Regions from separate parts of the Homo sapiens genome. Here region 2 is linked to region 1. Evidence: fine-mapped expression QTL. A gene starts in region 1. The other region holds a variant in brackets. All regions are shown on one strand. Distances are between the middles of the regions.

Region 1 (14,752 bases):
CAGCTAGACTATGAGATGGGTGAGCTTCCTCCATATGCAGACGGCGGCAGTGACACTCTGAAATATACCCAGAATTCACCCACTTCTCACCCCCTCCTCTGTCTGGTCCAGCCCCGTCATCACTCAGCTGGTCTTCTGACTCCAGCCCCCGTACCCCACAGTCTGTCCTCCCTGCAGCCACCACCAGAGGTTGCCTGTGAGCATCTGAGTCAGGGCACACCCTTCTTCTGCCCACAACTCTCTATGGCTCCCACTTTCCTCCAGGGACAAGCCCAAGTCCTCCCCAAGGCCCACAAAACCCTGCTTGAATTGCCCAGTTCCCTCCCTGCCCTCCCCACTCCCTCTCTCCCCCTCTTCACTGTGCTCCAGCCACACGGGCCTCTTCGCTCTTCCTCCAACATGCCAGGAACATACGGCCCTGCCCCAGGGCCTTTGCACGGGCTGTGTCCTCCACCTTAAGCAACTTCATGGCTAGCTCCCTCACCCCTACATGTCTTTGCTCAAATGCTACCTTCTCATGAGGTCTTCCTAAATCCCCTCATTTCAAATCACAGCCTTTTCCGCATTCCATTAGCTCTACCCACCTCCCTAGGTTAAGCCCTGATCTTTGTCCAACAAATCTGATTTTTTAAGTTATTTTTTTCCTTCCTTCCTTTCTCTCCCTCTTTCCCTCCCTTCCTTTCTTCCTTCCTTCCTTCCTTCCTTCCTTCCTTCCTTTCTTTCTTTCCTTTCTTTCTCTCTTTGTTTCTTTCTTCTTTTTTTTTTTTTGAGACGGAGTCTCACTCTGTCACCCAGGCTGGAGTGCGGTGGCGCAATCTCAGTTCACTGCAAGCTCCGCTTCCCGGGTTCACGCCATTCTCCTGCCTCAGCCTCCTGAGTAGCTGGGACTACAGGCGTCCGCCACCGCGTCTGGCTAATTTTTTGTATTTTTAGTAGAGACAGGGTTTCATCGTGGTCTCGATCTCCCGATCTCATGATCCGCCCGCCTCAGCCTCCCAAAGTGCTGGGATTACAGGCGTGAGCCACCGCGCCAGGCTTCTTTCTTCTTTTTTTTTCTTTTGAGACGGAGTTTCACTCTCGTTGCCCAGGCTAGAGTGCAGTGGTGTGATCAGCTCACCACAACCTCTGCCTCCTGGGTTCAAGCGATTCTCCTGTCTCAGCTTCCCAAGTAGCTGAGATTACGGGCATGCATCACCACGCCCAGCTAATTTTGTATTTTTAGTAGAGACAGGGTTTCTCCATGTTGGTCAGGCTGGTCTCGAACTCCTGACCTCAGGTGATCCACCTGCCTCAGCCTCCCAAAGTGCTGGGATTACAGGCGTGAGCCACCGCGCCCGGCTTTTTTTTTTTTTTTTTTTTTTTTTTTTTGACAGGGTCTCATTCTGTCACCCAGGCTGGAGTGCAGTGGCATGATCTCAGCTCACTGCAAGCTCTGCCTCCCAGGTTTTCCCTGACCTCAGCCTCCCAGGCAGCTGGGATTACTGGCACCTGCCACCATGCCCAGGTAATTTTTGTATTTTCACAGAGACAGGGTTTCAGCATGTTGGCCAGGCTGGTCTCAAACTCCTGACCTCAAGTGATCTGCCCGCCTTGGTCTTCCAAAGTGCTGGGATTACAGGCTTGAGTCACTGTGCCCAGGCTCTTTCTTCTGTCATCCAGGCTGGAGTTCAGTGGCATGATCATAGCTCACTGCAGCCTCAAACTCCTGGGCTCAAGTGATCCTCCCGCCTCAGCCTCCCAAGTAGCTGGAACTACAGGCTTGTGCCACTGTGCCTGGCTAATTTTAAATTTTTTTGCAGAGAGGGGCTTTTACTATGTTGCCCAGGCTGGTCTTGAACTCCTGGCCTCAAGCAATCCTCCCACCTCGGCTTCCCAAAGTACTGGGATTACAGACGTGGGCCATGGCACCCGCTCATCATTGTTTCTTTATTGTCTGTTCAAGAATTTATGTTTCTTTGGTTCACTACTGACCCCTCTCTTATGCAGCACCTGACACATAGGCATGCCCCTTAAATACCTGTTGAATGAATAAATAATTGAAAGCTCTATTGACTGCACCTGACATTTATCCCAAATCCATCCCTTTATCACCATGTCCATGGTCACCACCCAAATCCAAGCCACCATCATCCCTCTCCTTATAGACTACAATAGTGTCTTTTTTTTTTTTTTTTTTTGTCTTGCTCTATGGACCAGGCTGGAGTGTAGTGGCGCAATCTCGGCTCATTGCAACCTCTGCCTCCCAGATTCAAGTGATTCTCCTGCCTCAGCCTCCCGAGTAGCTGGGATTATAGGTGTCACCATGCGTGGCTAAATTTTTGTATTTTCAGTAGAGACAGGGTTTCGCCATGTGGCCCAGGCTGGTCTCAAACTCCTGGCCTCAAGTGATCCACCTGCCTCAGCCTCCCAAAGTGCTGGGATTACAGGCACGAGCCACTGTGCCAGGCCCAATAGTGTCTTTCATTAACTCATTCAACAAACATTTACTGGCTTCCCGGCCATTACCTTATCATTAGCTGAAATCATCTTCATGAGATTAGGTCTCTCTGCCCCCATCCCTAGCTTCCACCCCAGTAGAGTGTAAGCAGGCCCTCCCCCGTCCACCTAATACGTGGCCCTCATCATGGAGTTTCTTTTTAAATTATCGTTATTATTATTCTTAGGAGAAAGTTTCACTCTGGTTGCCCAGGCTAGAGTGCAATGGTGCAATCTCTGCCCACAGCAACCTCTGCCTCCCAGGTTCAAGTGATTCTCCTTCCTCAGCCTCCCTAGTAGCCGGGATTACAGGTGCATGCCACCACACACAGCTAATCTGCTCACAGCAACCTCCGCCTCCCAGGTTCAAGTGATTCTCCTTCCTCAGCCTCCCCAGTAGCTGGGATTACAGGTGCATTCCACCACACCCAGCTAATTTTGTATTTAGTGGAGACAGGGTTTCACCATGTTGGTCAGGCTGGTCTGGAACTCCTGACCTCAGGTGATCTGCCCACCTCGGCCTCCCAAAGTGCTGGGCCCTCTTTTTAAATTATTATAACCACGAGGAGGCGCTAGACCCCTTCCCTGAACATGCCCCTACCCTCTGACTGTACCAATACCAGACCGGTGAGGGATAAGGAAGAAACTTTCTTCCCCTCTTGAGCCTGGAGTCTCTTCCATATTTGCCAGGGCCAGTCGGGGGAGCCCAGTCTGGAAATTCCCTGCTTTGCAACCTACAGGCATCAAAACTTTTCATCCCCAAGCATCGTTGGCCCTCTAGGCCTCAATTTCCTCATCTGTAAAATGGTGGGTGAGTAACTTTCACCGCAAAGCAGCATCGTGGAGAAAGTGGGCATGCGAAGATTGAAAAGGAGGCAGACAGGATAAAGCTCCAGAGCTCCGGGTTTGAATTTCGCCTCTACCACTTACAAGCCAGGTTAACTTGGGCAAATGGTTTAGTTGCCCTGTGCCTCAGTTTCTCCATCTGGAAAATGGAAGTGATGAAAATACTACCTACCACCCTTACAGGGTGGTCTGTTTGAAAATTAAAATAGAGGCCTCATGCCTGTAACCCCAGCACTTTGGGAGGCCGAGGCAGGTGGATCACATGAGGTCAGGAGTTTGAGACCAGTCTGGCCGAGACCCCATCTCTACTAAAAATACAAAAATTAGCCTGTAATCCCAGCTACTCGGGAGTCTACAGCCGGAGAATCGCTTGAACCGGGGAGGTGGAGGTTGCAGTGAGCTGAGACTGCTGCCACTGCACTCCAGTCTGGGCAACGAGAGTGAAACTCCATCTCAAAAAATAAAATAAAATAAAATAAAGGCAAGTTGACAGAACAGCCCTTGTGTACAGTAAGTGCTCAATAAATGTTAGCTGCTGCTACTGCTTTTAAGACTGTGGTTACTGGGGCCAAGCACAGTGGTTCATGCTTGCTTGTAATCTCAGCGCTCTGGGAGGCCAAGGCAGGAAGTTCGCATGAGCCCAGGAGTTCCAGAGCCTGGGCAGCATAGTAAGACGCCACATCTACAAAAAATAAAATAAAATCAGCTGGGTGTGGTGGTGTGCACCTTTAGTCTCAGCTGCTTGGAAGGCTGAAGCGGGAGGATAGCTTAAGCCCAGGAGGTTGAGGCTACAGTGAGCTATGATCACCACTGCACTCCGGCCTGGGCAATATAGCAAGACCCTGTCTCTACAAGACAAGACTGATGTTAATATGAGGAACTCATCAATAAACGTGGCCAAAGAGTCCTCTCTCTTGCACTAGGTCCCTGTCACCTTTTCTCTTGTTCGTCTCCAGGCATCACGATGGAAGTCCCCCCCACCCTTCTTCCCACCTGGGAAACCACCTGAATGATTTGCCTTCCACCTCCACCAAAGTCCCGCCCCGCTCCAGCGTGCTGTCACTGAAGGAAGCTGTCGCGTTTTCCCGGACGTCTCTCCACAAAACCCGCCACCTAAATGGGGCTTCTTTCCGGAAAATCCGGGAGGGCGGTCTGGAGGAAGCGTACCCCTCCTTACGTCACAGCTGCCGCAGCTACCCCAGCCTGGCGTAAGAGCCCGAGGGAGTTGCCCTGCCCTGACCCGGAGCCTTGGCGGGGAGGGGAGAGAGGCACCCCACTCCACCCCGCCCTGGTCCCAAAGGGCCATGGGTGCTTGGGGCCGCCTGGGTGGAAGGGAGGGGCAGGGTTCTAAGGGGCGGGAACGTTGGGATGAAATTTCTTCTATTGCCCTAAGGGGCGGGGCTGAGAAGGAGGTGGCTGCGGGTGGGCGTAGTCATTCGGCGGTGGTCGTGGCTATATACAAGGGGAGGGGCCACTGGCAGGAAAGGATGCGTGGTGCTCCCCTAGTGGGCGGGGTCTATGGAGAAAGCGGTGCGATGCAGAAGGAGGCGTGGCTAGTAGCAAAAAAAATGGTTTTAAGGGGGCGGAGCAAGGGCCTGGGAAGTTAGTTTGAGGCGGGGCCCGCAGGGGGCGGGGTCTGCAGGAGGTGTGGTCAGGTAACTGGGCTGAGTTCCCACTAGGTGTGGTCTGGGAAGGCTGGGGCGGTGGCAAGGTGGAGGGCGGGGGTGACAGCAGCCCGGAGCCGCGGAGCCTCAGCTTCCGCCTGGACCCAGCCTCGTGGGAGCCCCGCGGGTCCTGCCCAGGTGAGTGGAGCCCCAGGGCAGATCCAGAACCAGGATTATTGGGATGGGGAGTCCTCTCTTTCCAGGTGGGGTCACCGGCTCGCAGGGAGGATCTGGGGTAGAAGAGGTCGCCTCGCGAATGAGAGGGTCGCTGTGCGTTACGCGTGTCGGTGTGCTCGGGCTCACCTGGGCGTGCCTCTCTAAGTGTATTTCCTGTGCAGCACAGAAAGCCATTGTTTCCATTTTTGCCTGAGTGATCCTCTTAAACGGCGAATCAGATCGGGCCCCTCCTTCACTTAAAACCCTTGGGTCATAGAGATTAAAATTCAAAGTCCACTAGTTTTTGCCTAGTCTCTCCTCCTGATCTCTCCAACCTCATTGCCCTCCTATCTACTCCTTCCTCATCGTATTCCGGCTACACCAGCCGCCTTGATGATGTAAAATGTAAAAAGCAAGTCCATCTCAGCTCCAGGCCTTTACCCTTACTGTACCCCTCACCCAGGCGACTCCTCCAAATCTTTGCCTAACTGCCTCCTTCTGTACTGAGGTCTCAGTTCCAATGTCACTTTATAGGAGAGGCTGTCCTGTCCAGCCTCCTCTATCACATCTCCCTGGCTTATCACTTTCATTGATAACTCTTAGAAATGGTCTGTCTTCTCCATTCATCTTGTGCTCGTTTGCAGTCTGTCTTGCGCAGCCGACTGCAAGCTCTGGAGGGCAGGGTGGTGCCGAGCTTTAATCTCCTTAGTCACTGTATCTCTAGGTCCTAGAACAGAGCCTGGTGCACAGCAAGTGCTCCAGCAATGGTCGTCCAACGTCAAAAGCGAGTCCTGCCTACATCTGTGTTTGTGTTGCCTGTGCTGGTGGTTCCCACCCTCCACGTCCTCCCCACACGTGGACACATGTTTATGATCCAACTGGAACATGAATAATCCCCTCTCTCCTCTCTCTATGCTTGGTCTGATTCCTGATTCTGCCCGTTTCTTCTCTTCCGTGCCCGAATAAATGATCCCAAAGGACTCAGAGGCAGGAGATGGCTTAGTTGGCCTTTGGCTGACCTATGGCCACCCTGTGTCCTCAAACTAACCAGAACCTTGCCATTGACTCAACTTCACTCTCACTAAGGGAGACACAAGACAGGAACTTGGGGTTGGGAAACTCTGCGACCGAGGCTAGCCCTGGTCCAGGTGACAAACAGGAAGTGCGCAGGCATTGCAAAGACACACCTGGCTTCAGGTATGCGGCACTGGCAGCTGGCTCCCTGCCCAGCGCTCCTCCCCTAAAGCCACCTAGGGCTGGTCTGGGAACTTCCTGCTGACTCAGGAGGCAGGAATTTCTCTGCAGACCCCACCAGAAGACTTTGCAGGGCTGCAGGGAGAGCTTGCAGGAGAGTAAGAAGCAGATTATCTTCTTCTGGACCATCCAGAGAAATCTCCCCCACCAGACACCTGAGACACACTGGCCCTGAGGCCTGTGAGATTATCGGGAAACTACCAAAATGTCTGAGATCCAAATTCAATCATCATGATAACCACATGTATGGGCTCCGAAATAGAAGGATCTGCAAAGGCAACATTGCTGTTTGCTGACATTGCTACAAAATGTGACCTTTTAAAAATCTTAACCCTGGGGTTACATTCTTTTTTTTTTTTTTTTTTTTGAGACGGAGTCTTGCTCTGTCACCCAGGCTGGAGTGCAGTGGTGTGATCTCGGTTCACTGCAGGGTCTGCCTCCTGGATTCAAGCGATTCTCTCTCCTCAGCCTCCTGAGTAGCTGGGACTACAGGCACACGCCACCATGCCTGGCTAATTTTTGTATTTTTAGTAGAGACGGGGTTTCACTGTGTTGACCAGGCTGGTCTCAAACTCCTGACCTCAGATGATCCACCCACCTCTGCCTCCCAAAGTGCTAGGATTACAAGAGTGAGCCACCGCGCCTGGCCCCCAGCGTTGCATTCTAAAGCAAAGAATAGGGGTTAGATCTGCACCTATCCTGAGAACCTCTGAGTGTGCGCATAGGTTGCCGAGAAGCCATGGATGTTTGTAAGTTAAATTCCCCCTGACTGGGATGTTTTTTCACCCAGAGTCACCTGGCACACTCCCCAGAATTCCTTCCAGACTTTACTCAATGAGACCTTTCCTGGTCACATGATCAAAAATGTTCACCCAGCCTGGGCAACGTGGCAAGACCCAATCTCTACATATATATTTAAAAATTAGCCAGGCACAGCCAGACGCAGTGGCTCATGCTGGTAATCCCAGTGCTTTGGGAGGCTGAGGAGGGTGGATCACCTGAGGTCAGGAGTTCGAGACCAGCCTGGCCAACATGGAGAAACCCCATCTCTATTAAAAATATTTTAAAAATTAGCCAGGCATGGTGGCACACACCTGTAGTCCCAGCTACTGAGGAGGCCGATGCACGAGAATTGCTTGAAACCAGCAGGCGGAAGTTGCAATGAACTGAGATCATGCCACTGCACTCCAGCCTGGGCAACAGAGTGAGACTTGATCTCAAAAAAAAAAAAAAAAAAAAAAATTAGCCAGGTACAGTGGCCCACGCTCATAGTCCCAGCTACTCAGAAGGATGAGGTGGGAGAATCACTTGAGCCCAGGAGGTCAAGGCCGCAATGAGCTGTGATTGCACCACTGCAGTCCAGCCTGGGCAATAAAGCAAGACTCTGTCTCAAAAAAAAAAGAGTGTTCACCCTAGCACCTGTACTTTCATTATATCCCATCCATGGTTTAGTTTTTTTGTCTAGCACTCACTCATGTATGCCATCATCTAGTTCTTTTCTGAGGTGCTGCTCCCCAGTAGAATGTCAGCTCCCAAGGACAGAGATTTCCATCTGTTTTGTTCAATGCTATGTCTCTAGGGCCTAGAACAGAGCCTGGGACCCCATAAGGTGCTGAATAAATAGGGGTTCAGTGAATTCATTAATTACATTTCTGCAAGATGGGGTGGCATGTTGTCATCTTCAGCCATTTTTTTTTTCTTCGATTGCATTATATTTGGAACAGGCACGATGGTGACATCTGTAATCCCAACTACTTGGGAGGCTGAGGCTAGAGGATTCCTTGAGCCCAGGAATTCAAGGCTAAAGTGTGCTATGATCACACCTGTGAATAGCACTGCACTCCAGCCTGGGCAACACATAAGACCTCTCTCTTTAAATGTAAAAAAAAAAGTCTGCGTGCAGTGGCTTATGCCTGTAATCCCAGCACTTTGGGAGGCTGAGGCAGGTGGATCACCTGAGGTCAGGAGTTCAAGACCAGCCTGGCGAACACAGTGAAACCCTGTCTCTACTACAAATATAAAAAAAGAAAAAACATTAGCTGGGTGTGGTGGTGCATGCCTGTAATCCCAGCTACTTGGGAGGCTGAGGCAGGAGAATCGCTTGAATCTGGGAGGCAGAGGTTGCAGTGAGCCAAGATCGCACCATTGCACTCCAGCCTGGGTGATAGAATGAGACTCTGTCTCAAAAAAAAAAAAAAAAAAAAAAAAAGATTTGATGGAGCTGTCTCCAAAATTAAGAAGAGGATGAAAGGAGCTGACCCAGACACTCAAGCAGGGCTAATTATTCCCCTTTTACAGATGTGGAAGACTGAGGCCTGTTGAAAGTGCAGAGCTCAGCCCTGGCACCCTCTGTTCCCAAGAGCTCCATGCAGGTGCCACAGGATGGAGAAGACCTTGCTGGCCAACCTTGGTACCACGGCCTCCTGTCCCGCCAGGTACCACCCACAGCAGGACCTCAGCACCATCTGGTGGGGAGCCTCTCCCACCCTTGCTGAGGATTCCTGGGTCCCTGGATGAGGGACTTAGTGCCAAGGTCTATTGGGACAGGTGGCAGAGGGCTGGGGACTGTCTTGAAGGTTGGCTGGCTGGGGACTGTCACTATATTTAAATTATCACTTTCTTTGGGATGATGAGATTGGTGATGGAGCTTAAGGAGAGTCCTAATGCCCCCAAACTACTCTTGGCTCTGGCCGTCTCTCCCTCTGAACTCCATCTACCTCCTGGTATTTCCCTCTAAATGTGAGGCTCCCAAGCCAGGCATGGTGGCTCACGCCTGTAATCCCAACAGTTTGAAAGGCCGAGGTGGGCGGATCACTTGAAGTCAGGAGTTCAAGACCAGCCTGGCCAACATTGTGAAACCCCATCTCTAATAAAAATACAAAAATTAGCCAGACATGGTGGTATGCGCCTGTAGTCTCAGCTACTTGGGAGGCTGAGGCAGGAGAATCTCTTGAACCCAGGAGGCAGAGGTTGTAGTGAGCCACAATTGTGCCACTGCACTCCAGACTGGGTAACAGAGCGAGACTCTGTCAAAAACATAAATAAATAAACAAACAAATAAATCTGAGGCTCCCACCTCCATCTGAAACTCAGTTGTCACCCCCAAAAATTCTGGGACCCTGAGCATCTCATGAAATCATGAGAGGCAGTAGAACTTAATAGTTAAAATCCCATAATTGAGACCCAGACACCCTAGGTTCAAATCCAAACCCTACAATTTATATTGTATGTGACCTTGGGCAGGACATTTGACCTCTCTGGGCCTCAGTCTCCCGATCTTTAACATAGGGATAGCAGGCCAGGCATGTTGGCTCATGCCTGTAATCCCAGCACTTTGGGAGGCTGAGGCAGGAGGATCACTTGAGGTCAGGAGTTCCAAACCAGTCTGGGCAACATAGCAGAACTCTGTCTCTACACAAAAAAAAAAAAAAAAGCGAAAATTATCCAGGCATGGGTGGCATGTACCTGTTGTCCCAACTACTCAGGAGGCTGAGATGGGAGGATTGCTTAAGCCCAGGAGGTCAAGGCTGTGAGTGAGCCATGAGTGCTCCACTGCACTCAGCCTGGGCAATCGAGAGAGACCTTGACTCAAAAAAAAAAAAAAAAAAAAAAGGCCGGAAGAAAAAAATGGGCCGGGCATGGTGACTCATGCCTGTAATCCTAGCACTTTGGGAGGCCGAGGTGGGTAGATCACCTGAAGTCAGGAGTTCGAGACCAGCCTGACCTATATGATGAAACCCCCTCTCTACTAAAAATACAAAAAAGTAGCCAGGCATGGTGGCATGCACCTGTAATCCCAGCTACTCGGGAGGCTGAGACAGCAGAATCGCTTGAACCCAGGAGGCAGAGGTTGCAGTGAGCCGAGATTGTGCCATTGCACTCCAGCCTGAGCAACAAGAGTGAAACTCCGTCCCAAAGAACAACAACAAAAAAAGGTATAATAATACCTACCACCCTTGTTACAGGAATTACAAGAGTTAACACCCTTTACATTTAAAGCAGTGCTTGACATATAGTAAGGGCTACACACGTGTGTCTGCTACATCTATTATTTAGTCCCCAGACCCCATGTTCAGCTCTACTTTGCCTCTCTCTGGGGTCCTGGCCCTTCTACCTGCCTCCCCAAGCCTTTTTTTTGTTTTTTTTTTTGTTTTTTTTTTGTTTTTGAGACATGATCTCACTCTGTCACCCATGCTGGAGTGCAATGGCTCCATCTCGGCTCACTGCAACCTCTGCCTCCTGGGTTCAAGCGATTCTCCCACCTCAGCCTCCTGAGTAGCTGGAATGACAGGTGCACACCACCACGCTCAGCTAATTTTTATATTTTTTGGTAGAGACAGGGTTTTGCCATGTTGCCCAGGCTGGTCTCAAACTCCTGATCTCAAGTGATCTGCCTACCTCAGCCTCCCAAAGTGCTGGGATTACAGGTGTGAGCCACTGTGCCCCACCCTTCCTACCCTATTTTGACACCAGCCACCACAGCTGGCATAAGACTGCTTGCAAATGTTTATAAAAGAGGGGGCCCCAATCTGGAAGCATCCAGCTAATGGCTTCTCTTGAAGCCACATTTGCATAACAAGCACAGTGCATTTACCAAATTAGATGTTGCATTGGTCAGCATCAGCTAGTGGCTGTAACAAACATTCCCAAGATATCACCAGCTAAACACAGTCAACATGTTAATGTCATAGTCCAAGGTGGTTGAGAAGCAGAGATGCAAAGCTCCATAAATCAGTTGGGAGCCAAGTGCATCTTGTAGCTCTGTCATCCCTCTGGGCTTTGGGGGATATCAGCTGACAGACAGGGGACACAACCTATAAGATTGTGCAGCAGGGTTTTATGCGCCAGGTCTGGATATTTCCCATAGCCCTTCTACCCCACATCCCATTGGCCAGTTCTCATCACATGACAACCCTAGCCGCAAGGGAACCTGGGAAATGTAGTCTACGTAGGTGCCAGGAGAAAGGGGGACAGAACTTGGTGTGAAAGTTCCCCGTCTTTGCCTGCCACAGAAGTTTCACTGGGGTAGCTTTTCTTGGGTGGTGGGGGCAATGGTGGGGGGAGCTACCATTAACCACTGCCCTGGACTCATTCCTAATTCCCCTGCCCCCTGAACTTCATCCACAGAAGGCTGAAGCTCTTCTTCAGCAAAATGGCGACTTCCTGGTTCGCGCCTCTGGGTCCCGTGGGGGCAACCCCGTGATCTCCTGCCGCTGGCGGGGCTCAGCCCTCCATTTTGAGGTGTTCCGTGTGGCCCTGCGTCCCCGGCCAGGCCGACCCACAGCCCTCTTTCAACTGGAGGATGAGCAATTCCCCAGCATACCGGCTCTGGTTCACAGTTATATGACAGGCAGGCGCCCACTGTCCCAGGCCACAGGGGCTGTGGTCTCCAGGCCTGTGACTTGGCAGGGGCCTCTGCGACGCAGCTTTAGCGAGGACACCCTGATGGATGGCCCAGCTCGGATAGAGCCTCTCAGGTACTCACAGTCTCCCTGCCTCCTTGAGAACACCCAACACTCGCAGGGTTTTCCAACTCAATGGTTGACTTTTTTTTTTTTTGACTGAGTCTCACTCTGTTGCCCAGGCTGGAGTGCAGTGGCATGATTTCAGCTCACTGCAACCTCCACCTCTCAGGTTCAAGCGATTCTCCTGCCTCAGCCTCCAGAGTAGCTGGGATTACAGGAGTGCACCACCACGCCCAGCTAATTTTTTTACTTTTTTATTTTTTATTTTTCTCTGGAGTCGAAGTCTCACTCTGTTGCCCAGGCTGGAGTGCAATGGCACGATCTCAGCCCACTGCAACCTCCGCCTCCCGGGTTCAAGCAATTCTCCTGTCTCAGCTTCCCGAGTAGCTGGGATTACAGGCGTGCACCACCATGCCTGGCTAATTTTTTGTATTTTTAGTAGAGACGGGGTTTCACCATGTTGGCCAGGCTGGTCTCAAACTCCTGACCTCAAGTGATCCACCCGCCTCGGCCTCCCAAAGTGCTGGGATTACAGGCATGAGCCACCACGCCTGGCTAATTTTTTGTATTTTTAGTAGAGACAGGGTTTCACCATGTTGGCCTGGCTGGTCTTGAACTTTTGACCTCACGTGACCGCCCGCCTCAGCCTCCCATAGTGCTGGGATTACAGGTGTGAGCCACCGCACCCGGCCTTGGTTGACTTTTGAGGCCCGAACATTCTTAGTTGTGGGGGAGGAGGTGGAGATGTCCTGTGCATCATAGGGTGCTGAGCAGCATTCCTGAGCTCCATCCAACTAGATGCTACTAGTTGTGACAACTAAAGATGTCTCCACACGTTGCTAAGAGTCCCCTGGACGTAGGTCACCTTGATTGGTTGAGACTCACTGGTACAGAGTAACTGGACACAGGGTTTTGCAGATATTGGTGGGGGACACTGCTTAGGTGGGGACTACAGGTTTCTCCCACTTCTGTCCCCCAGGGCAAGGAAGTGGAGCAACAGTCAGCCTGCAGATTTGGCACATATGGGGCGGTCAAGAGAAGACCCCGCTGGGATGGGTAAGTGTCTGCTAGAATGGCCTGTGGCTCAGGGATTGGCTCTGCCACTCACCACCTAAGAGATCTTGGTCAGGTGCAGGCACCTCTTCGAGCCTCAATTTCTTGCTTTAGAAAATGATGACAATCACGATGACTTAAAACATGCAGGGACTTTGTGGGTGCTTAAAATGTGTGTTTACAAGGCTGAGCGCGGTGGCTCATGCCTGTAATCCCAGCACTTTGGGAGGCCGAGGCCGGTGGATCACTTGAGGTCAGGAATTCGAGACCAGCCTTGCCAACATGGTGAAACCCCATCTCCACTAAAAACACAAAATTAGCCGAGCGTGGTGGCACGCACCTGTAATCCCAGCTACTCTGGAGGCTGCGGCAGGAGAATCGCTTGAACCTGGGAGGTGGAGGTTGCAGTGAGCCGAGATGGCGCTACCGCACTCCAGACTGGGTGACAGAACAAAACTCCATCTCAAAAAAAAAAAAAAGTGTTTACAATTATTCCAAGGAGCTGTACCTGTTCTGACCACAGCTTACCTTGCTAACAACTTCTGCTACGTACCCTCCTCATGCTGGTCACACAGCCCTCCTTGCAGTTGTTCGAACCCTCAGGCTTTTATTCCCGCCTCGGGGCCTTTGCATTTTACATTTCCACCAGTGACGGGAACATTCTCATTCCCCTAATTTTTTCCTGAGTGGCTCCTCTCCATCCAGGGTAAGTTCCTCAAAGCAGTTGAGTCTGACGGTCTTACCTAAAGGAGGACTCACCTGAATGCCCCCTCATGCCCCTTTTTTCCCATCCTTCTCCCAACCCCATTCAACATGAGCCGTCCCTGCATCCCAGGCCCTGCACGGAGTGCTAGGATACATCAACAAACCAGAAAGAGACAAAGATCCCTGCCCGATGGGAGCCAACAGTCCACGAGAGGACAACAAACCATGAACCACAAAAATAAGGCAATTTTGTTTGCTTCAAGATGAAAATTAAAACACAGGAAGGGAAGGCCAGGCACAGTGGCTCAGGCCTGTAATCCCAGCACTTTGGAAGGCCAAGGCGGGCGGATCACCTAAAGTCAGGAGTTCGAGACCAGCCTGGCCAACATGGCGAAACCCCGTCTCTACTAAAACTACAAAAATTAGCCGGGCGTGGTGGTACACACCTGTAATCCCAGCTACTCGGGAGACTCGGGAGGCTGAGGCACGAGAATTGCTTGAACCCGGGAGGCAGAGGTTGCCGTGAGCCAAGATTGCACCACTGCACTCCAGCCTGGACAACAGAGTGAGACTCTGTCTCAAAAAACAAACAAACAAACAAAAAACAGTAAGGGAAGGGTGAGGTGGCTCAGGTCTGTAATCCTAGCACTTTGGGAGGCCAAGGTGGGCGGATCACTTGAGGTCAGGAGTTCGAGACCAGCCTGGCCAACATGGTGAAAACCCATCTCTACTAAAAAAAAATAAAATAAAATAAAATACAAAAATTAGCCAGGTGTAGTGGCATATGCCTGTAATCCAAGCTACTTGGGACAGAGTGAGACTGTCTCAAAAAAACCGAAAAAACAAAAACAAAACAAAACAAAAAAAACAGAGTAAGGGAGATAGAGACTATAAAGATGGAGATGTATATTGCAATTTTATTTTATTTCTATTTATTTATTTATTTTTGAGATAGAGTTTTGCTCTTGTTGCCCAGGATGGAGTGCAATGGCGTGATACCGGCTCACTGCAACCTCCACCTCCTGGGTTCAAGTGATTCTCCTGCCTCAGCCTCCCGAGTAGCTGGGATTACAGGCATGTGCACCACGCCCTGCTAATTTTGTATTTTTAGTGGAGATGGGGTTTCCCCATGTT
Region 2 (11,440 bases), 19 kb after region 1:
CCTGTAATCTCAGCACTTTGGGAGGCCGAGGCGGAAGGAAGGCTTGAGGCCAGGAGTTCAAGACCAGCCAGGGCAACATGGTGAGACCTCATCTCTACAAAAACTGAAAAATAAAAAACTTTTAAAAAATGTAAAAGTTGAGGCTGTGTACTTTCTAAGAATTGTGGCCAGGAATGAGACCCCAGGTGGAGAATGCCTGGCACACAGTAGGTCTTCAATAAGTGCTACCCATTCTCAGAAGCTGCAGTGCATTCAGAAGGGATGAAACTTGGGTGTCCTGGCCAGGTGCGGTGGCTCACGCCATAATCCCAGCACTTTAGGAGGCCGAGGCAGATGGATCACTTGAGGTCAGGAGTTCAAGACCAGCCTGGCCAACATGGCAAAACCCTGTCTCTACAAAAAATACAAAAATTAGCTGGGCATGATGGTGTGTGCCTGTAATCCCAGCTACTTGGGAGGCTGAGGCAGAATTGCTTGAACTCGGGAGATGGAGTCTGCAGTGAGCTGAGATCACGTACGCCACTGCACTCCAGCCTGGGCAACTGGGTGAGACTGTCTCAAAAAGAAAAAAAAAAGAAACTTGGTATCCTTCTCCCTACCTGAGTCACAAGCAGACACCCACTGACAATGACATAGGCCAACTTCCAGAAAGGGGCAGGGTTGACCCAAGGTGTGCCCAAGATCACCTCCCCTTCCTCATTCCCTGTGTGGCCTGTAAGAAACGTGGTGTTAGATACTTCCAGTCCCAGTATTTAAATCCTCTAATAAGACACCGACTCTAGGAACTTTATATAATTTCTTTTTTTTTTTTCCCATTTTTGTATAAAACAAAATGGCCGGAGCCGAGCGGCAGAAAGAAAAGATGTAAAACATGAGTATGTACATCAATGGTGGAACGATGGTAGAAGGCACAGCGGGTCCGTCCGGTGTGACAGGTAGGACTGGGTTGGGGGTGGAGGGGGCAGCAGGTTACACAGGTCTCAGCCGAAGCCACGGGGTCAGAAATAAAGTGCATAGGTCCTGGGGCTCCCCGTGGCCCAGAAGCAGCAGCCGACAGCCCCCCTCTTCCCGTCTCTGGCAGGGTTCAATTGAGCGTGACTCGGAGGTAGGAGGTGGGCACGTAGCCCTCGCCTCCCTCTTTCCGCCTGACCCGGGTCCAGCCGTCCCCTTTGTCTTCTTCCATAAGACTGAGGTCTTCACCCTCGGCCATAGAGATAGTGCCCTCGCTGGACCCTGTGATGGGGGTGGGGGTGGGCCCAGATCTGCTTTAGGCAAAATTTATTATTTTTATTTTTTATTTTTGAGACAGAGCCTCGCTCTCGCCCAGGCTGGAGTGCAGTGGCACGGATCTTGGCTCCCTGCAACCTCTGCCTCCAGGTTCAAGGGATTCTCCTGCCTCAGCCTCCCGAGTAGCTGGGATCACAGGCGTGCGCCACCACACCTGGCTAATTTTTGTACTTTCAGTAGAGATGGGGTTTCACCGTGTTCGCCAGGCTGGTATGGAATTCTTGACCTCAAGTGATCTGCCTGCCTCAGCTTCCCAAAGTGCTGGGATTACAAGCCTGAGCCACCCGCCCAGCCCTGCTTTAGGCGAATTTAAACTGAACCTAGCCAGAGACACTGCCTCCCATACCCCGCCAAGCCCACTCTGGCCGTTCTCACCTTCAAAGTGGTAGATGGCCACACAGTGACCTATGGGGGATGTGGGTTCCTCCTCGAAATCCTCATCAAACTCCGTGTAAATGGGGGTGTCCTGGCTCTCTTCTGAGGGAGGCTCTTCAGAGCTGTTTGGGGATAATTCGGCAGATAAAGACAGGCCCTCCTGGGACCCTGGGAACAGACCCACTCTGACGTCACCCCTCACCTCTCCTTGGTGTCCTGTGATGCGCTGTTGCTGCTGCTGTCTGGCGGGGCGCTAGCGGGGGGGTCGGGAGGCCGGGCGTGCCGGCTCAGGCTGTCTCCCCGGTTGCTAAGGACTCGACTTTCAGCTTCTGCCAGCCACGCCTGGGAGGAGGGGACAGGAAAATCGTTCCAGGGCAGAGCTCCGGGGTCAGCCCACTTTGGACCCAGAGGTTCCCTGAGATCACCCACGCACAGCCAAGGCTGTGATGGAAAACAGCTGGAGACCCCCCGCTCCGAACACCTCCCCTGTCCCCGACCCCCCACCCCACCCAGCAGTGACTCAGCCAGGCCCGCTGGCTCCCGCCCCTCCCCAGGGTCTTTCCTGACCTCATACTTCTGCACTTCCAATTTCAGCCGTTCAATGTTGCTCAGGGTTTCAGCGATCTGGGGCTCCAAGCTGGCGGGGTCCCCCATCTGAGGTGTCTTCTCATAGACATCCTTCATTTTCTTTAGGGCTTCCCTATGACAAGGGAGACAGGATAGACAGGAAAACATACTTCCGTGTGAGTTTTTTTGTTGCTGTTGTTTTGTTTTGTTTGAGTCAGGGTCTCATTCTGACTCTTTCCCCAGGCTGGTGTGCAGTGGTGCAATCATGGCTCACTGCAACCTTAACCTCCCGGGCTCAAGTGATACTCCTGCCTCAGCCTCCTGAGTAACTGGGACTATAGACCCGCATCACCACACTCGCCTGATTTTTCAAAAATTTTTAGTAGAGATGGGGTCTGGCTATGTTGCCCAGGCTGAGTTCAAGGGATCCTCCTGGCTCAGCCTCCCAAAGTGCTGGGATTACAGGCATGAGCCACAGCACCGGGCTCCATGTGATTTAACAAGCAAAAAACAGGGGTTTTGCATCAAGGAGCAAATAGCAAGGCAGGACAATGGTTAAGGATGCAAATACTAGTGCCCGACTGCCTGGGTTCGAATCTCAGTTTGAATATTTCCTAGCTGTGTGAGCTTGGCTTAAATCATTGAACCCCCACTGCTGTTTGCTTATTTTGGAAATGGAGATAATGATCCTAATATCTCATGTGGGTCACTGTGAGGATTAATACAATGCCTGATACCTAGTAAGTCCTCACTATTACTCATATACATATTGAGTACCTACTGCATACAGGTCCTATTCCAAGCATCAGAAATATAACACTGGGCTGGCCGTGGTGGCTCACATCTGTAATCCCAGCATTATTTTGGGAGGCTGAGGTGGAAGGATCACTTGAGGCCAGGAGTTCAAGACCAGCCTGGGCAATGGTGTGAGACTTTGTCTCTAGTAAAAAATCAAAATAATTTTTAAAAAATAAAAAAAGAAGGGGGGGCAGGGGAAAAAATAAATAAAGATAAATATAACACTAAACAAGACAGATCTTAAGTCTGCATACAATCTCTCAGGAAACCTTGAAAATTCGAATAAATCCATGTACACTGTTTCGAATAGTGCCTAGAATGCAGTAAGTGACTAATAAATACTGTTATCATTATCATCAGTTTCTCATCCCTGTCTCCCCTATGTCTATATATACAGGTAGTCACGACTATAATGGACCTTTGGAAAAGACCAGATCTGAGCTCAACTTCCTTCCAGTTATTTTTTATCTTTTTTTGAGACACAGTCTCACTCTGTCGCCCAGGCTGGAATGCAGTGGCGCAATCTCGGCTCACAGCAACCTGTGCCTCCCGGGATCAAGTGATTCTCGTGCCTCAGCCTCTGGAGTAGCTGGGACTACAGGCACACGCCACCACGCCTGGCTAATTTTTATATTTTTAGTAGAGACAGGATTTCCATATGTTGGCCAAGCTGGTCTCAAACTCGGTCTCAAGCCATCTGCCTGCCTCGGCCTCCCAAAGTGCTTGGATTACAGGCATAAACCACTGCACCCTGCCAACTTCATTCCAGTTCTAATACCTGATCCACTTTACAGATGAAGAAACTGAGGAATTAAAAGGTAAAACAGGCTGCCCAAGTCCTGAGATGAAGCTGGAAATCAAGTCCAGTTTGTCGTGACTCTAGAACATGCACCCTTAACCCCTCCACCGTAGAAACTCAGGAACTAGAGAGTTCTGAATGGAACTTTACACCAATAAAAGCCATTCTGTCCAAGAGGTTACATGCAAATGGCAAAATATAATTTGGCTGCCTGTTTGCAAGTGGCAAACATCATTCCTATTATGTAACAGAACTGGGAAGAGGATTTTGTTGCCTGGAAAGAGTGAGTAAAGATTTTTTTTTTAATCTGCCAGATTTTTTTATTGTCAATATTTTAAGTGTTTGAGCTATTAAATAGATAACCATATGCTGCTTTTCTTTTAGCCAATTAATGTGGTGAACTAGATGGATACATTTTTTGATATTGAACTATCTTTGCATTATTGGGATAAAACCCAACCAATGGTGGATTTTTTTTTTTTTAGTTTTTAAAAAAATTTACTTGGGTTTTTCTTCTTCTTCTTCTAAGAGATGGGGTTTTACTACGTTGCCCAGGCTGGCCTTGAACTCCTAGGCTCAAGTGAGTGATCCTTCTACCCAGCCTCCCAAAGTGCTGGGCTTATAGGCATGAGCCACTGTGCTCGGCTAATGTATTATTATTATTATTATTATTATTTGAGGTAGAGACTCGCTGTGTTACCCAGGCTGGAGTGCAGTGGTGCAGTCTTGACTCACTGCAACCTCCGCCTCCCAGGTTCAAGCGATTCTCCCACCTCAGCCTCCCGAGTAGCTGGAATTACAGGCGCGTGCCACAATGCCCAGCTAGTTTTTGTATTTTTAGTAGAGACGGGGTTTCACCATGTTGGTCAGGCTGGTCTCGAACTCCTGACCTCACGTGATCTGCCCTCCTTGGCCTCCCAAAGTGATGTATTATTTTTTAAACACTGGATTTGCTTGGCTAGGATTTTGCCTCTATGATCATAAATAAGGTAAAATGAGCCCTTAATTTTATCTTATTGAATTCTTGGCCACAGATTTGGGAATCAGGATTCTTCAGCCTAAAGAGGTTGACAGCTTTCACACTTTTTCTGTTTGCTGGAATGACTTGTATAAGACAAGAAGTAACTGTTTCTTTTTTTCTTTTTGAGACAGGGTCTCACTCTGACACCCAGGCTGAAGTGCAAGTGGTGCAGTCACAGCTCACTGTAGTCTCCATTTCCCAGGCTTAAGCCATCCTCCCACCTCAGCCTCCCAAGTGGCTGGGACTACAGACACAAACCACCACACCCAGCTAATTTTTTTATTTTTGCTAGAAATGGGGTCTCACTCTGTTGCCCAGGCAGGTCTCAAACTCCTAGGCTCAGATGATCCTCCTGCCTCAACCTCCCAAAATGCTGGGATTGCAGGCACAGGCCACTGCACCTGGCCAAGAAGTAACTAAGTGTGGTAGGAATCACCTGTAAAACCGTCGGGGCCTTGGGATTATTGGGGAGATCTTTGAGTACCATTTAAATGTCATTCATTTACAGACCCGGGCAGTGGCTCATGCCTATAATCCCAGCACTATGGGAGGCTGAGGCAGGCAGATCAACTGAGGCCAGGAGTTCAAGACAGCCTGGCTAATATGGGGAAACCCCGCCTCTACTAAAAATATAAAAATTAGCTGGTGCATGCCTGTGGTCCTAGCTAATCGGCAGGCTGAGGCACAAGAATTGCTTGAACCTGGGATGTGGCGATTGCAGTGAGCTAAGATCACAGCACTGCACTCCAGCCTGGACGACAGACTAAGACCCTGTCACAAAATAAAATATAATAAAATAAATAAAATAAAATAATAAACAAATAAGTGAAGTTCATTTACTATTTTATCATGTTCCTTGCCTGTCCTTCCCTACCCCACCACCTTACCTCTGGTCAACCTCCTTCTGAAGTTCACGACTGCGTTCTTCCAACTGCTGTTGAAGCCGTTTTCGCTGCTGCTCTGGGGGCAAGTGGCTAAAATCCTCGGTCACCACTGTCTGCAAGGTGGGTAGAGGGCTGAATTTGGGATCAAGGAGTCTAGCCTGCCAGACTCTGCACCCGTCTGAGATATTTCACTCCCTTCCCCAGCCATGGTTCTTGACAGCGAAGCCATGCACAGAGCAAAGCAGGTCTGGGTTGGGCAACCAGGGAAGAGGGGCCCAGCCAGCGGCAGGAAGCGAGCCCAGGGTCCCGCCACCCGCCGCTGGGCAGGCTAGGGCCACCACCTCCTCCTGCCCCGAGGCCTCACTTACCCCACGGCTGCCTCGAAGGCTGCGGAAGGATGCTAGCCTCGGTTTGACCGACTTACTGATCTCGCTCAGTATGGCCAAGGGGTCACGGCCGGAGCGGGGGGACGGGGGTCCGTTAGGCAATGCCGAGGGTACGGGGCCCCCCAGGGGGGAGAGGGGTGGGGGGCGAGGCTACCGGCGGGGGCCGGGGAGGGGGATAGGTTGAAGGGGTGGGGGGGCATAGGAGGATGTAGAGAGTGAGGACGAATGGACGGAGGGATGGACGCACGGATGGACGGATGGACGCAAAAAAAGGAAAAAGGAAAAACAAAATGGAGAAAGAAAAAAAACGGTAAGAAAACCACAACTCAAGATGCACAACCACACAGAGAAAACGCATGCAGGAGCGACACAAAAAAATCTGGAAGGTGGCGGGGAGGATGTTGAACTGTAAGCCCGAAAGCCAGAACTCTCACTCCCCCGGTATCTCCTAGGTCTCTGGAATGTTATGTCCGGGAGCAAGCATGGGTCCAGGAGGCAGGGAGGCCCATGTCTCTCTGTCCACTTAGCTTTCTGGGCTGACAGTCTAGAAGACGCATGCAGGAATCAAGGTCTCAGACAGGTAAGAGGCCACAGAGGACAAAAATAAATAAACAAAAATAAAACCACAAGCCGAGAGGGAGTGGAAGGCAGGAAAATGAGAGGGGTTAGGGGCATCAGAAGTTTAAGCTCGGGGATCACAGGTGTTAAGTCAAGGAGAGGTATGAGAGTGTAAGTGAAGAGGGACCCAAAGTATAAATCAAAGGTATAAACCAAGGGTGCTAAGGTATATTAAAATCCAAAAACCCAAGAAAGCAAGACATGCAGGGCGGCTCCCAGAGTCCCATCAGCAGGATGGAGAGAGAAACTCGGGGAGTCCCCAGGGATGGTGTCACCAGCCCTCAGGCCAGCCCTGAATTCCACCAGCAGGTTTTCTCCCAGCATCCCGAGAAGCAGCAGACAAACGCCACGGACCTCCCCACCTCCCCACCCTGCCCCCGCCTTCGCCTCGGGGGACTCCCAGGCCAATCGGCCGCCTTCCTTCCCTCCAGTCCGGGCTGGCAGCCAAGAGGAAAATTCCTGCCCG[A/G]GACTCGGCGTTCAGGCGGCTGGGGCTGACTCAATAGGGGCCCCACTGTCCCCACTTCACTGTCCTTCTCCCCCACCATCCCAAGGGTCCCGGCCCCCACCTTGTTCTTCTTGCCAAAAGGCCAGCGCTTGGTGCGGCTGCGACCCGGGCCTCGGAGTTCAGGCCGTCCATCCGAGGGGGTGCCCAGACTGCTGTCGGAGGGTGCACGGTTCATGGGCTGGCTGAAGTCCTCGAATTCCACGTCGCCCGGGCGGGCAAAACCTGACTTGTGCAGCTCTATAAGGACGTGGGAGTCCTGGGGGAGGGGGACAGTGGATGAGCAGTCGAGTGCCTAGCCTATGGGTACCTCCCTCTGCCCTTCCCGTAGCCCAGTGGACCCAGACCAGGCACCCACGTTCTTGGGATCCACAGCATTTGCAGCCACCTTCATGCCCTCCAAGCACTTGGCTATTATGGGCACCACCTCCAGCTCGGCCTCCGACAGGAGCCCATACCCGGCACCCAGGCGGGTGGCCCTGCGTTCATCCATGTCTTGGAGCTTCTGTAAGGACAGGGACAAGGGTGGCTCAGGGGTGCTAACAGAGGGACTAGAAGCACAGTGATTCACTCTGCAAATATGATCGCGCTCCACGCTGGCCCCAGCCCCAAGCCAGTCTGGAGGGGAAGACAGAGTCGGGAAGAGAGACTCCAGCCCACTGTGGTTGGGGAAGAGACACAGGGCCAGGGGGATCTCAGAGGGGGACGCGTGCCTAGGGGGTCAGCAAAGGCTTCTCAAAGGAGGAGACAAGGGAACAGGGATTTGAAGAAAAAGCAGAACCAGCCCTGATACTCCCAGGGCCACGGATGGGACAGAGAGTGGAGCGCTAGATTGAAACAGGAGAGGGGAAATTCGAGACCTTTCAGAGGGGTTGTTAGAGGTGGAGCTTAGAAGAATAAGTAGGAATTTCAAAAAGAAAGAAAGGTCACTTGAGCACAGGGGTTCCAGGCTGCAGTGAGCTGTGATTATGCCACTGCACTCCTGCCCGGGTGACAGAGCCAGGCCCCATCTCTCTATAGAAGTAAATAAACAAACAAGTAAAAGGCATGCCCAGCAGGAAGAACAGCTGACTAAAAGCACAGCTCACTGTTACTATAGGTTTCTGATTCCCTTTCAATCTAGGGACTGGGACATTGCAGCTGGGGTTTTGATGAATGCGTAGGAGTTGGCTAACATTTGGAGGCTTTCGGGAAGGTAGGTCTGAGAACTGGGAGCACTCACATCGAATATCTGGGGCATCTGTGAAAAATAGAAGTGGGCTTGGTCTCGGTTGAAGCGCTGCAGTTGAGCCGCATATTCGTTTTTGCTTTCTTCGGCCATGTGACTCCGAAGGTGGGCTTGCTGCTTGGCCTGAAGAATGCAGAGGTGGAAGGTACTGCCAGGTTCCGATCACGTCCCACTCGGACTCCCCAAGCTTGTCCCAGACCCCGCACCCCCCCCCCGCCCCCGCCACACACACCTTCTCCACATCAGCCTTGGTGGCGTTGATATCCTGGTCTAGCCGTTCAGCAGTCTGGGCTGCCTTCTCTGCCTCCCGGCAGTCCCGCTCAAATTTACGCTTACTCTGTGTAGGGGACAGAACCGGAGTGAGGGAGCCACCATCCCAAAGACAGCAGGGTGGGAAACCAAGGTTTCAGGGATTATTGGGATGTCATCCAGTAAGTAGGGGTCAAGGGAGTACTGGAAGCCTATGGGGGAGGGAAGGTCCAGGTCTGACAAAGAGGGCAGCTCCCTGACTCCGGATCCGCAACCCTGCCCCCATGCCTCCGGGCCACAGTCACTGCTACCTCTGCAAACTCACATTCTCCAGCTGTTTAAAGCCATTTTCCAGCTGCTGCTGGGCCCGCCGCCCTTCTTGGAAGTGCTACAGAAAGAAGAGTGATAAGGCTCGCCAGGGTTCCAGCAGAAGCCCTTTGTAAAACCTGAATCGGGGGGCTCCTCACCATCTTCCTCTCCTGTTTCATCTCTTGTGAGTACTTGGTCAGCTCAAGACATACACGGACACTGAGGTTCTCAGCCACCAGCTCCCGCTGGCCTGCAAAGTCATTCACCTCCTGGAGAATCTGTACGAAGGACTGTTGCTGGCTGAATCTGGGGTTGGATGAGAATCGGGGAACAGGGAGTCAGGCCCCTCCTCCCGAGCAGGCTGATGCCCCAGGACGCACCTCCAGGTGGAAAAGGGTTAAGCCCCAAGAATGTAATCCCTGAAGCGATGACAAATTCTGGTCCATATTCCTTAACCCCAACCCTTGAGTAGATTTTTTTTTTTTTTTTTTTTGAGACAGGGTCTTGCTGTCACCCAGGCTGCAGTGCAGCGGCATGATTGCGTCTCACTGCAGCCTCAAACTCCTGGGCTCAAGTGATCCTCCCACCTCAGGCTCCCAAATAGCTGGGACCACAGGCACACGCCACCACACCTGGCTAATTTTTTTTTTCCAGATGAGGTCTCAAACTCCAATCCCCCCGAACTCCGCATCTTCCCGCCTCACCCTCCCAAAGTGCTGGGAGTACAGGTGTGAGCCACCGCACTGGACCTCGAATGTATATTGGAACACAGAATTTTCCAGTTTTTAAAGATGGTGTACAAAGCTTATACCATCTTTTCTGCATCATCTTAGTGGGGTTGGGGACATCATTTTGTAATCAAACACCGTATCTATTTGTTTTGGAGACAGAGTCTCACTCTGTCGCCCAGGCTGGAGTGCAGTGGTGCGATCTTGGCTCACTGCAACCTCCGCCTCCCGGGTTCAAGCGATTCTCATGCCTCAGCCTCCTGAGTAGCTGGGATTACAGGCGCGCACCACAACGCCTGGCTAATTTTTGTATTTTTAGAAGAGACAAGGTTTCACCATGTTGACCAGGCTGCTCTCGAACTCCTGACCTCAAGTGATCCACCTGCGCACCCTCCCAATGTGTGGGATTACAGGTGTGAGCCACTGTGCCCAACCCTATTTTTTTTTTTAATTTTACAATGAGAGGTGTTAACATTCACACTAAGTGGGATAAAAGTCAAAACTACAATTACCAGCCTGGCTAACATGGTGAAACCCTGTCTCTACTAAAAATATAAAAATTAGCTGGGCATGGTGGCAGGTGACTGTAATCCCAGCTACTAGGGAGGCTGAGGCAGGAGAATCGCTTGAACCTGGGAGGCGGAAGTTGCAGTGAGCTGAGATGGCGCCACTGCACTCCAGCCTGGGGGACAGAGTGAAACTCTGTCAAAAACAAAACAAAACAACTACAATTAACAAAAAGTTCAGGTCAGAGATTGCTGCCAAACAAGTGACCAAAACAACTTGATTTCCAGGGCTTTTTTGGATTTTGGAATTGGGGACTCAATTCCAAGTCAAATGCTCCTTACGGCGTTTGATATGGACTGCACACTGTTTAAACACATTCACTCAGCTCGTGTTCATGAAAGCCCTACAAAGCTGGAGGAATCGTCATCATTCCATTTCACAGATGAGGAAAACAGAGGCGCAAAACTTTAAGTCATCTGCCCAAAGTTACTGGTTTTGTAACTGCTGGGGCCTCTGTATTTAACAGTTAAGGAAAATAGTGGCAGAAAACCTGAGTCACAAGCCCAAGTCAATTTCTCTACATAGTAGTGGACTCAGGATTCCAAGCCAGATAATCCCGCATCTTGCATCCATGCTCTCACCTCTAGAAGGGGAAGTGAGAGGAGCGGTGGGGTGTCCCAGCTGAGGGAGGGGAAGTGAGACCCAAGCACCGCCTTTCCCCACAAATCTAGCCCTGCAGCCCCTCTCCAACCTTACTTGGACTCAGGATCATCCTTGGCAGGTCTCTTGGGCAGATATTTTTTCACCAGGCTCCTAAGGGGAGACAGAGGTAGGAGGGCTGAGCCCGCAGCCCTCCCACCGCTCCCCGTCGCCCCAGGCGCGTCCTCCGTAGCGTCCACCCCAGGGTCTCACCGCAGTTGTTTGGCGTAAGCCTGTTCCACTTCGGTGCGTTCTTTCACGAACTTTACATATCTGTCCAACAGGTCCAGCCCCCACTGCGTGTGGCGCTCGAGCACCTCGAACTGATCCTGACATGGGACATGGTGGGGGAGGAGGGGAGAGGGGCCGGGGTCACGATTTTGGGACCCCACAGCCCGCCGACCAGACTCCCAGGGAGGGCCAAGGCTCTGCGCTCCTAGAAGGAGTGGCTTCCCGGCGCCGCCCCGGCGTGGCGCGGGGGGA

Evidence for each region.
Region 2: its variant is fine-mapped to the expression of SH2D3A in left ventricle (GTEx, PIP above 0.99). The same link has a PIP of 0.9 or more in fibroblasts.

The regions. Positions count from the first base shown.
Region 1 is chr19:6,757,758-6,772,509 of GRCh38, reverse strand. It overlaps SH2D3A (SH2 domain containing 3A), which reads left to right and starts at 5,075. Exons shown (of 10, transcript NM_005490.3): 1 at 5,075-5,123; 2 at 8,694-8,830; 3 at 11,523-11,872; 4 at 12,840-12,916. The coding sequence starts at 8,762. RefSeq lists a silencer at 4,537-4,596 and enhancers at 6,685-7,585, 11,180-11,680.
Region 2 is chr19:6,740,856-6,752,295 of GRCh38, reverse strand. TRIP10 (thyroid hormone receptor interactor 10) reads right to left here. Exons shown (of 15, transcript NM_001288962.2): 2 at 11,171-11,286; 3 at 11,015-11,071; 4 at 9,182-9,329; 5 at 9,040-9,102; 6 at 8,698-8,802; 7 at 8,460-8,588; 8 at 7,596-7,742; 9 at 7,302-7,496; 10 at 6,100-6,267; 11 at 5,735-5,844; 12 at 2,230-2,362; 13 at 1,865-2,004; 14 at 1,663-1,784; 15 at 766-1,233. The coding sequence ends at 1,085. It overlaps LOC124904623 (a long non-coding RNA gene), which reads left to right and starts at 3,709. Exons shown (of 2, transcript XR_007067109.1): 1 at 3,709-3,845; 2 at 3,940-4,132. SH2D3A (SH2 domain containing 3A) reads left to right here. Exons shown (of 10, transcript NM_005490.3): 10 at 1-136. RefSeq lists enhancers at 6,053-6,553, 8,605-9,524. The variant A/G (reference allele first, on the strand shown) is at 7,202.